Regions from separate parts of the Homo sapiens genome. Here region 1 is linked to region 2. A link means that fine-mapping ties the variant in region 2 to the expression of a gene that starts in the linked region. Tissue or cell type: gastroesophageal junction. Region 2 holds a variant in brackets; the other region holds the start of a gene. All regions are shown on one strand. Distances are between the middles of the regions.

Region 1 (7,210 bases), 80 kb before region 2:
GTAAACAGCACTGCCTGTCTCCGTGTTCCCTGAGTGTTCCTCCAGGCACTGTCACTGCCAGACGCTGGTATTTTTGTCTACTATGGCCCCCACCCTGGCTGGTACACTCAGAAGGACGGGCTGCGTCCCCTGTGCCTAGAGAGGCATCTGGCACAGAGCCAGCCTTCAACATATATTGCATGAAAGATTCCGTCCAAGGACGCTGTAGATGTAGGTGGACGCAGACAAAAGCAAAGCAGGACAGTGGATTCGTCCAAAGACCGGCAGTGTCTTCAGGTGAAGCTGCAGCGTCGAGTCCTGGTGCTTGCAAGGTTTCAGCAGCAGAAACCTGATGGGGCTCCTTGCACCTGGGAGAAAAGCCACTCCAGTGAGGATTATTGCCAGTGAAGGCTGCCCTGGCCCCAGACAAGTTTTCCTAGAATTTATGGTAGCAGGCGGGTTGTTAAAGGATGATTCCCGAAAGGGCCAGACATGGTGCTCACAGGGATGCAGGGTGAGCATGCGTCGAAGAGCTTCCCTAGCCCAGGCAGCTGTGAGGACCAGCTCAGAAGAGAAGTCCTGAAACAGACACTTACAGATGAGGAATATTGACATGATTGTGCAAATGGACCTGAAACTGGATTTTCAGGGGGCTGTGATGGGCTGGATTGTCTCCCTTAGATTCTAATGTTCAAGTCCCCCACACCCCAGTGTCTTAGAATGCAACTGTATTTGGAGGTAGACTTTAAAGAGATGGTTGAATTAAAATGAGGCCCCAAATTCAATCTGACTGGTATGTCTATAAAAAGAGAAAGTCTGGACATCTGGAGATACATCAGGGATGCGTGACTGCTCAGAGGAAAGACCCTGTGAGGCACAGCAAGAAGGCACCATCTGCTTGCCCAGGAGACACCAACCTGTGACACCCTGACCTTAGACTTCCACCCCCAAGAACTGTGAGAGGTAGACCTCCTTGCACTGTAAATCACTCGTTCTGTTACTGCAGTCCCAGAAAACTAACACAGACCTTTGCTGGGCAGAATGCCTTTGCTTCTCTGCAGACAAGATTACTTTTGCACTATTGCACTGTTGTTATCAAAATAATTATATGGGGCTGGGCATGGCGGCTCACACCTGTAATCCCAACACTTAGGGAGGCTGAGGTGGGTGGAGTACCTGAGGTCAGGAGTTCAAGACCAGCCTGGCCAACATGGTGAAACCCCGTCTCTACTAAAAATACAAAAAAAAAAAAAGAAAAAAAAATTAGCCTGGTGTGGTGTGCACCTGCAATCCCAGCTATTCGGGGAGGGGGCTGAGACAAGACAATTGCTTGAACCTGGGAGGCACAGGTTGCAGTGAGCCAAGATCTTGCTACTGCCCTCCAGGCAACAGAATAATAATAATTTTTATTATGGAATCAGTGTCAAATGCTGGTGCCTTCTGGGGGCAACACACAGTTTCCCACCAAAGTGCATCAGTGCCCCAGGCAGTCAAGGTGCCAGGAGACGAGGAGGCCGCGGATCTTCTGTCCACCTGGGAGCAAGCCTGCAGCTTGGGACCCTCCTGGGACCCTGCACCCGCCAGTGCCCTGCCCTCCTGGGCTCTCATGGGAGTGAAGGAGGGTGGGCTCTGTAGGAGTTAAAGAAAGAGGAAAGAAACATGAAAAGCGGCTCAACAAAGGCAGGTTTATTTTGGAGAATAAACCTGAAAGGGACTTCTGGCCGATTTTGGTCAGGAGCCATCTCTCCTACAGACTAAGGATCTTTAAGGGTTTAGGAAGTGGGGAGCTTATCGCAGGCTCGGAATGTTTCTATGTGAGGGAAAGTTTATTGCGGGCTTGGAATGTCTCTGGTCGGAGGGGAGGTTATCTCGAGGTTGGCATGTTTCTGATTGGAGATGTTATTTGTGGTTTACGGTCGTGCTGACATTAGCTATTGGGCTGATGTGTTTTGGGCTGGATTTAGGCAGCTTTTTAATCAAAGGGAACCTAAAATGGCGGTGTTTGTCCAAGAAGGCCATACTCCTGCTCTGTCCCGCTCCAGCCCTTGGGGGCCCCTCGGGCTCTTCTCTTGGATGGTGTGTGAATGGGCACATGTGGAGGGGCTGGTCCAGCTCTGCCTGCCTCTGGCCATCCAAAGGAGGGACAGCAGGGCCTGGGCAGCAATGCCGGCCTTGGAGCCCCGGGGCTGTGGAGGCTGCTTGACAGGACACGGAGCCCCCTCTGTGCTCAGGTCGTGGAGGGCCTCGGGCACTACGGTCTGCCAGGCACCACATGTCACAGCTACTCAAACACCCAGGGCCGCCACGGAGGGCCAATGGCCGCAGGATGGCTCAGGACCCGCCCCACCCCTGTCGCTGCCTTTCTGGCTGCCCCCTAGTCCCTGGACAGGCGCTCCCCAGCCCCAAGCAGGCCCCAGCCAATCTCCTGCCCAGGCAGGAGCTCCCCCTGCCGCCCTCACAGACCTCACCTCTTCCTACACGTTTCCAAGGCCGCGCCCCGCCCCGCACCCCGCCAGGCCCCGCCCCGCACCCCGCCAGGCCCCGCCCCGCACCCCGCCAGGCCCCGCCCCGCACCCCGCCAGGCCCCGCCCCCACCCCGCCAGGCCCCGCCTCTCTCTCCGACCCTGGACAGTCCCCGGGACCCACCCCGCCCCCAGGTCCTGCCCCCGCCCGCCTCCGCGGGGCCTCCCACCCTCCCGGGCAGACTCCACTCCCGCCCCCTCCCCGTGGGTGCCCCCGCCGGCCCCGCCCTCCCAGGCTGCCCCCGGCGCCCCGGGCCTCCTCCGCGCAGTCCCTGAGTCCCGCAGGCCCTGCGTCCCCGCTGCACACCCCCGTCCACTCCCGTGGTCCCCGGTCCGGCATGGCGCGCGCGGTGGGGCCCGAGCGGAGGCTGCTGGCCGTCTACACCGGCGGCACCATTGGCATGCGGAGTGAGCTCGGCGGTGAGTCCGAGACCCTGGGCGGGGTAGGCCTCTGGACCTGGCCGCGACCGGGAGCCTCGGACCCTCCTGCACCCACGGGGGTCGTTGGGGAGTCAAATCCGCGCCTGGATGGGGGGTGCGGGCTGAGGTCGCTCTCCTCCGGTTCCGGCCACCGGCGTCCCCACGCATGGAGCCCCGACCTGGACAGAGGAGATTGCGGTGGGTTCTCGCCGTCGCGGTGCTCCCGGGAGCGCCCTGCGACCCTGGGGCCAGGCCCCCTGTGCTGCCGCTGCGCCCCTGAGGGCCAGCGTCCTGAAGTCCTGGAATATGGGGCGGGAGGGCCCCAGGGCATTGGCCTGCCGCTCCTGCTCTGGACACAGAAGGCTTAGGAGGCTGCCCTGGAGAAGGCTTAGGAGGCTGCGAGGACCCCTCAACTGCGACACCCAGGAGGGTGTCCCCGTCCCCTGGGGTCCTGGTCAGGCAGCAGTGGTTGGCACGATACTGGGGCTACCTGGCATCTGCGGGGACGCACGTGTTCACACCCGAGGTGGCCTCAGAGCCCTGCTTCCTCTGCCCCTGTGTGGACCTGGTTGACCAGAGACCAGCGATTGCGTCTGGACTGAGTTCTGCCTGGGTGGGGTCAGGGCCTGGGACAGGCACCGAGCTCTGTGGTACTCCAGCACAGTGCTGCCAGCCTGGGCTGGGCACAGGAAGGATGGTAGCTTGGGGAGCCTGAGGCCACCGGGATGGGGAGAGGACGGTTGCACTGGAGCCTCCAGAATGCCTGGGTGTTCCCCAGGAGGGCAGGACACTGCCTGGGGCCCCCAGATGGGCTCTGCTGTGATGTGGGGCCTCCCTTGGGGCCAGGACAGCCCCCTCGCCCCGTCTTGAACCTGTTTGCGACCCTCCATGGGCCACTGCCTGCCTTTCCCTCAGGAGCCCTTTCCACTCCTCCTCCTCCCACTCCCTGCTGCCCTGGCCCCTCCCCACACTCCTGCTTGTGTCCAGCGCAGCTCTCTCTCCTGGGACGGCTGGGACCCTCTCCGGCTCTGCCAGAGCCCAGGGCCTCCCCTGGCATGACCAGAACATTCTCTTGTCCCTTGCCCATCTGCCAACCACTTCCCCGCCCCTCCTATCCCCACCCCCTCTCACGGCCTGTTCCCTGGCAGCTGCCCCTCCTGGCCACCCCTTTCTGCTGAAGTGGCTGCTCAGAAGCCACCAGCACTCTGTCGGTGCTCTCAGATTCCACCCACCACACTGTGGCCGGTGCAGACCCCTCTGGAGGCCCACTCTGCGCCCAGCCCAGGAGACAAAGCCTAGTGGGGCTCGTCCACGAGGGACTCAGGTCCCCAAGAACGTGGCTGTCCAGGCTGCCGGGAGCCTCCTCTGCACTTCTCCTTCTGCCTGTGAATGGAACAAAGTCATTCACAGCTTGGCAAACGCCCCTGTGTGACACTCCACTGACACAGAGTGACACAATTCCTGTGCTTGGCCCTCACAAGCTAGAGAGAGAGGCTGCCATTGAAGGGATGGCATGCATTAAGGAGCTAGTCCCAGGGGCAGGATCTGCCAGGGCCCTGTAGGGGCTGTGGGCTGATAACAGGGTCTGAGCTGGGTGTGTGGATGGTGTGGAGTTTGGAGGCAGCCCAGGGAGGGCTTCTCTGAGGACACAAGGCCTGCAGGACAAAGATGGGAGAGGGCCAGGCCAGGAGCAGCCCTGCAAGGTGCAGGAAAGAGGAGTGGGGAGCCCAGCAGGGCCGGAGCCTGCCAGAGCTGCCCCCGAGTGGGGACAGGACCTGGGGACTCTGTGTGGGGCCTCGTCCGACGCCCCTGACGCTACCCCTTCAGGCTTGGAGTGTGGCCAACTGCAGTTTCGTTGAGCTCAACATGTAGTTCTTGAGTGGTCCGAGCTGCAGGGGCAGGTGGACTCTGTAACCCCACCACACACCCGTCTCGCTTGGCCCCCGCGTGCTCGCCGCAGCAGCCTGTGGGTGCACTCACACGCGTGCACCGCATTTCTGAAAGAGGCTGTGAGGTCCTGTGTCTGGGTGGGAAACAAGAGACTTGGAGGCTGGAAATTGGGTGTGGGGCGTCAGTCTTCAGACCTGAAGCAGCCTTCTGAGATCCCTTGGTGCTCTGTGCACTGGGGTCCTGGCTTCTGCTCAGCAGCCCGTCCTCGTGTGGCTGCGAGGTCACCCCCAGCTGTTGCTAGCTGACCCATGTGGGGCATCCACTTCCAGGAACCTGCAGGAATGGGCTCCCCCAACCCCTCGTGAGGTTGGAGCAGCCAGACTGTCAGGCGTCAATGATTTACTCCCTCCACACTGCTGACGTGGGCTCTGGCCTTCCCTGGGGAGGTGAGAGGGGAGTGGTGGCTTTGCCCTAGTAAAGCTGTTTGATTGTCGCTGTTGGAACGGCTTCTGCGCCTGCTGGTAAACAGTGACCTGTGGGTGGAACGCTGCACACCTGGAGCCCTGCCAGAGTTCAGGGAGGGCAGAGGTGATGCCAGTGGGGACGCCCCTTGACCCATCCCTTCTCTGAGTTCATTGAAGCTATCACAGGTCAAGGGGCATAGCGAATCCAAACACGGCTGATAACCCCAAGCCCAAGCTGGCATCAGTGGCCACGTTCTGTACACCCGAGAAACTTGAAGACTTCCTATGTCAAACTGGGAACCCCACCTGCTTGCCGGCCTGTCCCAAAGTCCCTCCTGAGCCCGGCTCCTTGCAGGCACAGCAGGGAGGGCAGAGATCTGGGGCCAGGCAGCTGAGAGAAGCTCCCTGCCCGGTGACCACACGGGTCCCAGCAGTCGAGAGTGTCAGTGGAGTGATGCCCATGGCTTCTTGGTTACTGCAGTGGCGTCTGTGCCCTTGGCCTGGACCTCCTTCCTGAATGGGTGCTACACGTTCACAAGTTTCTAAGCCTAAGCTTGACTTCGCTGGTGACAGTGGGGCCCATTGTCTTAGAGAGCAAAGCCTCCTTTCCAGGTGTTTGGCAGGGGGCTGAGGAGTTTCCAAGTCACCAGCAAACTCAGGCACCTGCCTGGATGGGCCAAGGAAGAGGTTCCAGGCAGGGCTGGAGGGTTCAGATTCTGCAGCCCTTGAAGCTTTTGGAGGGCCCTCATTGAGAAAAGTAATACAAGTTACAAAATCATAGTTAGGTGTGAAAGCCGGTGTTTGTTTATTTTTTATTTATTTTTATTTTTTTGAGATGGAGTCTCACTCTGTCGCCCAGACTGGAGTGCAGTGGCGCGATCTCAGCTCACTGCAAGCTCTGCCTCCCGGGTTCACACCATTCTCCTGCCTCAGCCTCCCGAGTAGCTGGGACTACAGGCGCCCGCCACCGTGCCCGGCTGAAAGCTGGTGTTTATTTAAAATAACAAAAGAAATTGCCCCAGCTGACTGGGCGCGGTGGCTCACACCTGTAATCCCAGCACTTTGGGAGGCTGAGGTGGGTGGATCACTTGAGATCGGGAGTTCAAGACCAGCCATGGACAACATGGTGAAACCCTGTCTCTACTAAAAATACAAAAAAAAAATTAGCCAGATGTGGTGGCAGATGCCTGTGGTCCCAGCTACTGGGGAGGCTGAGGCATGAGAATCGCTTGAACCCAGGAGGTGGAGGTTGCAGTGAGCCGAGATCTCGCCACTGCACTCCAGCCTGAGTGACAGAGTGAGACCCTGTCTCAAACAAACAAAAAAAACTGATGCCACTACATACCTGTTAGAATGGCTGCTGACGTACAACACATTGACTGCGGGGTGAGTGCTGGAGCCCCAGAGTTGGAAAGTGGTCCACTCGCAGGTTGGTAAGAAAACTTTACTGGCGACAGTATAGGTTTGAAAAAGGAACGTTTGGCCAGACATGGTGGCTCAGGCCTGTAATTCCAACACTTTGGGAGGCCAAGGCGGGTGGTTCACTTGCCTTGCTAACATGGCGAAACCCCGTCTCTACTAAAAATAAAAAATTAGCTAGGTGTGGTGGTGCATGCCTGTAATCCCGGCTACTCGGGAGGCTAAGGCAGGAGAATTGCTTGAGCCGGGTGGGTGGAGGTTGCAGTGAGTCGAGATGGCATCACTGTACTCCAGCCTGGGCAACAGAGTGAGACTCTGCCTCAAAAAAAAAAAAAAAAAAAAAAAAAAAGGAAGAAAGGAGAAGAAAAAGAAAAAAGAAAGAAATTGGCCAGGCTGGTTTTGAACTCCTGGGCTCAAATGATCTTCCTGCATCAGCCTCCCAAAATTCTGGGATTACAGGTGTGAGCCATAAAAACCACTGCAAAAGCACATATGGAGTGTTTTGCTTGAGAGAAG
Region 2 (8,423 bases):
AAGGAGAAAGTGCTCGTTCTGGGGCCTCGTTAATGCAGTGGCAGGTCTTTGAGTCATACCAGTGAGGTAAGCCCGTAAAAGCAGGCACCGGGAGGGCCCAGCAGGCTGGGGTGCAGCCTGTTGGCGATGGGCCCCAGGAGGAGGAGGCGCCTCAAGTTAGGTCAGATTGTGGGGTGGAGATGTGGGGCGAACAACCTTCCAGACTTCCAGGGCTGATGGAACCACAGAGGACGCCCGGTCCCAGCCTCTGTCTAGGCGGCCTGGGCCCTGGGTGTGCCCGCTGTGGCCCAGGCATACCTGAGATCTGTGCTGCGGACGCTGCTCCTGGGAGGGTCACTGGAGGGGCAGAGCCCTTGTGTGGCCGACGGGGCAAAGGGCCAGCCTGGTTTTGGCCTCTGCAGACCTAAGGCTCCAGCCTCAATCTCCCTCTGGCCTCTCCAAGTGCTGCTCCAGTCTCCAGTGCTTGCCCGGCCTCCGCGTCCCCTGGAAGCTTGGGGGTGTGGGTGCCGATGCCCTATTGCCCACAGCCTTGGGTTGCAGCTGGTACCTTGACCCTGCCCAGCCTTGGGAGGGGCTGCAGGGGAGGGTGGAGGAGCTGGCTCTGGGTGGGCGTGACCTCTCCCCATCCACTTGAGGCCGAGCCAACACCCTCCAGTGAGGGCTGGTGCTGGGCGTCCCCCACATCCATTTCCAGAGGAGGAAAGGGGTCCAGGGAGGCTCCCTGTCCCTTATAGGGGCCACCGTGGGGACCGTCCTCAGCCCTGCCTGTCCAGGTAGGGTGGGGGGCTTCCCACCTGCACCTGCAGGGCCCTGCCCTTCCCCCCGCCCCGCCCCAAGAAACCTGGGGTCCCAGCCTTGGAGCAGCACCAGGCAGCAGGGTGGGGTAGCCCTGTCCCAGTCCTGCCTGCTAGATGCGGATGTTTTCCAAAGCGGGGCCGCAGCTTCTTCCCTTGCAGGCAGCTGGCGGGAAGCTGAGGTGTAACCCAAGGTCGTGGGGTGGGGGGTCTGGAACAGGAGGCTGAGGCTGGGGTGGTGGGCAGGCAGGAAGAACCCCAAGAGCAGACACTGGTGAAATCCAAGCCTCCTCCCACCTGTGCCCCCAAATGGGCAGATGCAGCCCTGCCTGCCTGCCTCTGGCCTCGCCCAGGCCCCTGCCCAGTCTCCCTGCCCGCTATGGGGGCTCACTTTGAGGTTTGGGTTGTGGCTCTGCCCTCTGCGCTTCCCAGCGTTCCCCTCTGCCCGGGCTTCTTGCCCTGTGGACAGACGCACAGACACACAGACAGCGTGGGCGAGTGTGTCGGCCTCCATCCTGTCCCTGATCTGCTGTGTGAGTGATCTTTGGGCGACGAGGGCACAAGGGCCTCTTCCTTGCAGGGCAGTTGTGAGGTTTACAGAGACGAGGCTTAGGCACGGTATTGGGTAAATGCTGGCGATGCTGGGTGAGGTCCAGGGGTCTCAGGCACACAGGCCCGGGCCCCACGATGCAGGTGCCATTGCCTCCCCTTGCAGGCCTCCCTGCCGCGTTGGGCCCCACCCTGTGTGGCTCAGCTACCAGAGGGTCACGAACCTGGGACCCCAGTGACCCCGGAACCCCGAGCATGCGCGGCACGGGGCGGCCATGGGCCCCGACCCCTGCTCTGACTCACACCTGCATCCTGGGGCCCAGGCCCGTGTGCCTGAGACCCCTGGACCTCACCCGGCATCGCCAGCATTTACCCAATACCGTGCCAGCTGTGGGCAAGGAACCCAAGTCCCCGAGGCGGCGGGTGGGCTTCCCACACCTGGAACTACCGGGGCTTCTCCTGGGTAGCCGTGGGTTTGGTTCCTGGGATTCTTCCTCCTGGCATCCCCCGGCTCCACGTCTTGCCTGGGTGGCTGCAGGCACCGCCCACCACTGCCCTACTAAGGACTCCACCATGTGTCATAGATTACTTTTACTTTCCACGATGACACCTCACTAGGAGGAAAGCCGTCCCTGGGGTCTCTTAAGAGACAGCTCCTATTCAAAATGAAAGAAATTAAGCAAAACGCCAGCGCTGCAGCCGCCGCAGTGGGGGCAGCGAGAGGCCGGGCCCGGCTCTGGGGTGCAGGTCCTTCCACACTGGGGTCAGTTTTAGGGAGTCAAGATAGACGTGAGAGGCCGAGGGCTGTGGGGGGGGCGTGGGGCATGTTAGGGGACAGAGGAGCCCAGGGTGGGTCGGGGGAGCGCCGGTGGTCAGCGTTCACCACACCCTTCGCCGGGTGGCATCCTGGCCTCTGGCCCGCGTGGGAGCGCCTCCTGTTGGGAGGTGGTGACACCCAGTGTGTGTGTTCGTTCACCCCTGTGGCGTCCTGGTGTCCCTGTGCTGGTGGGTCCATGATCCGGGGTAGGGGCTCTGGGTGCCTGCAGCACAAAATGTGCTGGGAGGGTGTGGGGCCCTGCAGAGGTGGGGTGGGTGGGCCACAGAGAAGCCACCCCAGGGAATGAGTAGGTGTGGCCCAGTGATGGGACCTGGGAACACATCCCCAGCAGCAGGGTTAGCACAGCCAGGGCTCAGAGGCGCGGCGGGCCTGTACTCTGTGTGTGTGCCTGTCTGCGTGTGTATGTGTGTGCTCTGTGTGTGTATGTGTGTGAGTGTGTGTGCGTGTCTGTGTGTGTGCGCGTGTCTGTGTGTGTGCGCGTGTCTGTGTGTGCATCTCTGTGTGTGTGTCTGCATTTCTCTTTCTCTGTGTATCCTTGTCTCTGTGTGAGTGTCTGAGTATGTGTGTGTGTCTCTGAGTGTCTGTGTGCCTGTGTCTCTCTGTATATGTGTCTCTGTGTCTTTATGTGTCTGTCTCTGTGTGTGTCTCTATGTCTCTCCGTGTTTCTGTATGCATATGTGTCTCTATGTGTGCGTCTCTGTGTGTGTTTCTGTATGCGTGCACGTGTCTCTGGGTGTGCCTCTGTGTGTGTCTGTATGTGTATGTGTGTCTGTGTGTCTCTGTGTTTCTGTATGCATGTGTGTGTTTCTATGTGTGTGTGTCTCTGTGTGTGTGTCTCTGCATGTATATGTCTCTGTGTGTTTCTGTATGCATGTGTGTATCTCTATGCATGTGTCTGTGTTTCTGTATGCATGTGTGTGTCTGTGTCTCTGCATGTGTTTCTGTGTGCATGTGTGTCTCTGTCTCCATATGCATGTGTGTGTCTGTATCTCTATGCATGTGTGTGTCTCTGTATGCATGTGTGTCTGTGTGTCTCTATGCATGTGTGCGTCTGTGTGTCTGTATCATGTGTGCGTCTGTGTGTCCCTGTGTGCATGTGTCTCTGTGTCTGTATGCATATGTGTTCTGTGTGTCTCTGTATGCGTGTGTGTCTGTCTCTGTGTGTGTTTCTGTATGCGTGTGTGTGTGGGCCTCTGTGTATGTTTCCATGTGCATGTGTGTCTGTGTGTCTCTGTATGCATGTGTGTATCTTTGTGTCTATGCGTGTGTGTGTGTCTGTGTGTTTCTGTATGCATGTGTGTGTCTGTGTGTCTATGCATGTGTGTGTCTCTGTCTCTGTATGCATGTGTGTGTCTGTGTTTCTGTATGCATGTGTGTGTATCTGTGTTTCTGTATGCATATGTGTGACTGTGTGTCTCTGTCTCTGTGCATATGTGTGTCTGTGTGTTTCTGTATGCATATGTGTGTCTGTGTTTCTGTATGCATGTGTGTGACTGTGTCTCTGTGTCTCTGTGTGCATATGTGTGTCTGTGTGTTTCTGTGTGCATGTGTGTGTTTCTGTGTGTGTCTGTGTGTGTCTCTGTAGGGTGTGCGTGTCGAGGTCCCCTGGGAGTCCACCCCAGTGGCTCCCAAGCATGCACTGGCCTCCCCTGGAGGGTGTGTTAAACCCAAGCGTCAGCCTCTCCCCTGGAGGTCCTGTGGTCCGGGGGCTTTGGGAGACTCTGCACCTTCTGGGAGTTCCCTGGGGGCACTGTGGGTGCAGGAATCCCCCACCCCTGGCGGTGCTGGGGCAAGGCTGAGCCTCAGGGTGGGCTTTGGGGTGGGGAGGCGCTCGCCCTGGCTGAGGGGCAGGGTGGCAGCGGGGGCACTTCCCAGCAGCCCTGAGTGACGAGGGTGGCAGGGGCCCAGGAGCTGGGCAGTGGCTCCAGGATGGCTCTAGGGCCTTGGTGATCGGCAAGGGGCAAGGCAGCCTCACCTGGGGCCTGGGGCTTGGGGTGTGGTAATCTCGACAGCAGGATTAATTGAGCCCTTCCTGTATGTGGTCACTGTGCTGGGTGCCTTGAGTGTGTCAGTCCATTAGGGCCACACAGAGGCCTCCATTGTCACCTCATCCGACTTTGGAGATGTAGAAACTGAGGCATAGGCAGGCCAGGTGGATGTGCCCAGGTCACAGCTGTGCATGGCTGCCCACAGCCTGGGCATCGGGTGGGAGCAGCTTTCACTGTCCG[A/G]CCCCCGGCAGCGGCTGCAGGTGGGGGATGAGGGCACACCCCTTGGTGGGGGGATGGCATTCAGTGCAGAGCACAGGGAGGGGCGCTCAGCCTGTGTGGGTCTGGACCCTGTCACAAGCTTGGTGTGAATGCTGGGCAGAGTCCCTGGGGCAGGGACGCCATGGAGGCCCCAGCCTGAACCGTCCACTGTAGAAATGAAGTGCAGGCCTCCCAGCCACATTTTGGACTGGGTTTCCTGGGATGGTGGCTGATGAAGTCCCAGGGTGGGATCGCCTGGTGACTCGCAGGCGGGTGACAGGAACAGCTGCTGTCACCCACCACTGATCCTGCCTCTGCCTCTCCTCCCCAGGGCTATGCAGAAGCTCAGCCTGGCCTCCAAGAGGAAGAAGCCCCACCCGCCACCGCCTCCAGCCACCCGCGGCACCTCCACCTACCCCACCGACTTCAGCGGGGTCCTGCAGCTGTGGCCGCCCCCGGCGCCCCCCTGCCTGCTCAGGGCCGCCTCCAAGACCAAGGACAACCCTGGCAGCATCGGGAAGGTAGACGCAGCCCCGAGTTCGGGGCCCTGGGTGGGGAGGCCAGAGGCGTCTGAGAAGACGCAGGAGGGGTGAGGGAGTGGAGGGGCTGCCACTTCCTTCTCTGGGTTGGATAAGGGTGGTCAGTGGGGTGCCATGGGGAGACTGAGGCCCAGGTGGCAGCAGGGAGCCTGGGAGCCTGTGCTGGGCTGGGACTGCCGGGATGGGAGGGGAGTGGCGTGTCCTAGGGGTCCCAGGGGCATGTACTAGGTTCAGCGTGGGGCGGGACAGCCAGGTCACGGGGCTCCCAGGGACTAAGGTTGGGTTTGATCCAGGGAAGCCCCTTGCGTAGGCTCCACTGAGACGCAGCCCTGAGGGGGCTGGGGGCAGGAGGGGACTCTCTGCTCTCCAGAGTCACCGTGTGCAGGCGGGCCCCTGCCATGGGAAAGCGGGATGCGTGATGGGTTGATTCTGGCGCCGCGCTCCACATGGGAAGACTGCCGCCTGTGGAGGGCACAGGGCCTCCATCAGTGATGGGACAGGCTGGCTCCTGGCTGTCCCTGGAGCTCTGAGCCTGGGGCCTGTGGCTTGCTGGTTGTGCCATCCGAGTCTCGGAGAAATACCTGCCCTGGCTGGACGTGGCCCTGCCTTGTGCTGGGAGCTGGCAGTGCCTGGTTCGTGGGCCCATTGAGTCAGGTGGGCTCTTTGTGCCCATGGAGGGTGGGAAGCCAGTCACACAGCTCTGTGTGTGCCCCCGGTGGCTTTTTCCTGCCCCTCGGCCTGCTCTGCAGCCAGCCCCCTCCCGCCCAGCACCCCGAAAGCACTGCCTGGTGCCTCCAGGCCCGGGAGGCTCTGTGCCCCACATGGGCCATCAGGCTCCGTGCCCCTCTGGACTTGGACCACGATTCCCAGGGGTTCAGCTCTCCAGGGGACAAGGTCTGGAGGGGACGCTGTGCCCACGTTGGAGACCCCCTGGCAGAAGGCCCCTGTCCCTGGGCCTGGGGGTGCCACAGGCCTCTCCCACTGCCCTAGCTGTACTGGGTCTAGGGTGCCAGGAGCACCCCTCGCAGTCCTGGTGAGAGCCTGCTTGACCTTTACAGCTCTGTAGTCCTGGAGGGGCCTCCTGGGCAGCCACACCTTGGGATTTTGTTAGAGCTCGGGAGGTGCCAGGCTCGTGGGAGGGTTTGGAACATGCTGGCTACGGGGAAGGGCTGTAAGTGACTGTGTGTCTGGCCACGCCCTCAGTGGTGCAGTTGCTGGGGGCTGTGCCCCCTGCCCGCCCGGTGATGTAGCGAGCATTGTACTTGCAGCCCCTGGAACGCTAATTTCGTGACTTGAGCCCTCCAACCTCTCCAGGGCAGCCCTGGCCTGAATTGACGGTGGCTACTGGTCTGGGGCAGTGGTGGGTCCCTAGGGAGGGCCGCCGTGGGGCATAGGGGCTCTGGGGCGGCCTGTGGGGCAGACCTGACAGCTCTTACCATCTTCATAGGCCATGGCGGGTCCGGGTGGGGGCATCAGGCAGTTGGCACCTTGGAGCTGCATGGGTGTCCAGAGGGGAGTGTGTGGTGAGACCACCAGGAGCCTCCCGATCTCCCTGACTCTGGGTCTCCACCCCGAGCACCCCACCAGTTGCCAGGGTTTGAATGGATCGCTTGTCCCTCTGGGCACTGGTTTCCGTTTGTGGTAAGGAGGGCTTGGCGGGCATCTGGCATCTCTGTCCTCCGGAGGCGACATTCTGCATCCAAGGCCCGGGGGCAGGGGAAGCTGTGTGGCCTGGATCAGGGACTTGTCATTGCTCCGCTGGGGTTGGGGCAAGGCCCCTGCCTGGGGTGAGGCGGGGGTGGTGGGTGAAGCAGAGTTGGGGGACTAGGCCGGGGGTCACTGCCTCCCTGGAAATCTCTTTGCCTAGCACTGCTGGGGGTCTGCGGGGAACAAGGGGGCTCCTGATCTCTGTGCGTGTGCCCGGCACGGGCTGTTTCTCCACAGTCCCCTGGGATGCGAGGCCAGTGGCATCAGCCTGTGTTTTGGGCCCAGGCCTGGCTGGCTGGGGCACCCTGGGTCCTCCCCACCCTCAACAGTCTCCTTGAGACAGGGCAGGTGGGTGCTGGGGCCAGGCTGCCGCTGCCCTGGCCACGTGGGCTGCAGAGCTGTGCCGAGAGCTCAGGAGGACGCCGAGGTCAGGTGTGGGCGGTGGTGGGCAGGCAGCATCCAGGTTCCCCGCCCAGCCTGGGATCGGGGCCCTGGCTCTGGCCTGGGCCTGGCACTCAGCCTGTTTGTGCCATCCAGTTGGGGCGGGGGGCAGAGGAGTCAGCAGCTCCTTCAGGAGCCCGCAACACTTTTCCCAGCGCCCCGCGTTTCTTAGGGGACAGCTTCTGCCCCACTTCCTCCTGGGGGCAGCCTTGGCCGGGCTTCTCCCTTCTCTCCATGGCAGTCACACCCCCACCCTGCTCCGGAGTGCTCAGTGCTTCCCCAGCAACAAGGAGCCCTGGGTCACCAGCCTTCCAGCCCCTCCACCCTGCACACCCCCCAGCTCCCCGGGTGTTATTAGCACTAATGTCACATAGTCAGAAATGCCGCCTGAAAGGCGTTTAATATTGTCACAGAAAAGAAGTTAGATTACGTTCAATTTCTGACATTAATGTGCTACTTAAGATAATTCATCACAGTGTGGTATAAAAAAGACATCCCTGTCTGGGTGGGTGCTGAGCAGCGCCCTTCCCCCTCCCTGCCTGGGCTACCTCTTCAGAGCTGGAAGCCCTTTTTTAATGCAAAATGTGTTTTTTCTCTCCCAGGCAGCTATTCCGTGGGGCTTTGTAATATCTGAACATTTAGGGGAGAGGCTTGCTGTGCCTTTTCCTGCAAAGACCCTGTCATTTCCCTGCAGTAATGACAGGGTTCTCTTTCGGCAGACAATGGCCTGCGCTGGGACCAGGGCAGTGTGGGGCAGGCTAGATGGGCGGTGCCCCCACTGTGGGCTGCTCCATCCCCTCCCTGGGGAGGCCCACACCCCCCTTCCTCCTGGTTGTGAGCCCGCTCTGCGATTAATGCCGCTGGTGGAAAGGGTGGCCGGCAGACGTAGAGAGCCAAACCGTGAGCCTCTCCACGCCACTCCTTCCCGCTAGGAAGTCTCTCAAATCTGCAGAGCCCATTTGGCTCCTGAAGTGGTGAGGAGTTCACACTGGAAAAAAAATTGCCAAAAATTACCGGGAAGTGCACGTTTTCGTCTGCTTTGTGGTGGCGTCTGGAAATGAAATAGTTTTGATCACGTCGTCGGGGGAATAAAAGAATCGATTCTTGCCTAATGGAGCCCAGGTTCTGAGTAGTACAATAGAAAAGTGTTTCTTCATGCTGCTCCCCGGAGAGCGGGCACTCCCGACTCCAGCGGCTTGCATATCAATGTGCCCCATGCCCAGGGGGAGTAGGTGCCGCCTGGTGCGAACTACCCATGGTAAACCAATTTTGCCGGCGTTATGTATCTGTCACTTACAATTAAATCCGT

What was found. PIP is the estimated chance that this variant, and not a neighbour inherited with it, causes the effect.
Region 1: ASPG starts here. The variant in region 2 is fine-mapped to the expression of ASPG in gastroesophageal junction (GTEx, PIP above 0.99).

The regions. Positions count from the first base shown.
Region 1 is chr14:104,082,932-104,090,141 of GRCh38, forward strand. It overlaps ASPG (asparaginase), which reads left to right and starts at 2,769. Exons shown (of 16, transcript NM_001080464.3): 1 at 2,769-2,921. The coding sequence starts at 2,840. It overlaps LOC124903408, which reads left to right. Exons shown (of 2, transcript XM_047432050.1): 2 at 1-764. The coding sequence ends at 4.
Region 2 is chr14:104,162,101-104,170,523 of GRCh38, forward strand. It overlaps KIF26A (kinesin family member 26A), which reads left to right. Exons shown (of 15, transcript NM_015656.2): 5 at 4,759-4,948. Among named protein-coding and RNA genes, the nearest start is that of KIF26A-DT, 28 kb to the left of the region's middle. RefSeq lists an enhancer at 6,750-7,462. The variant A/G (reference allele first, on the strand shown) is at 4,410.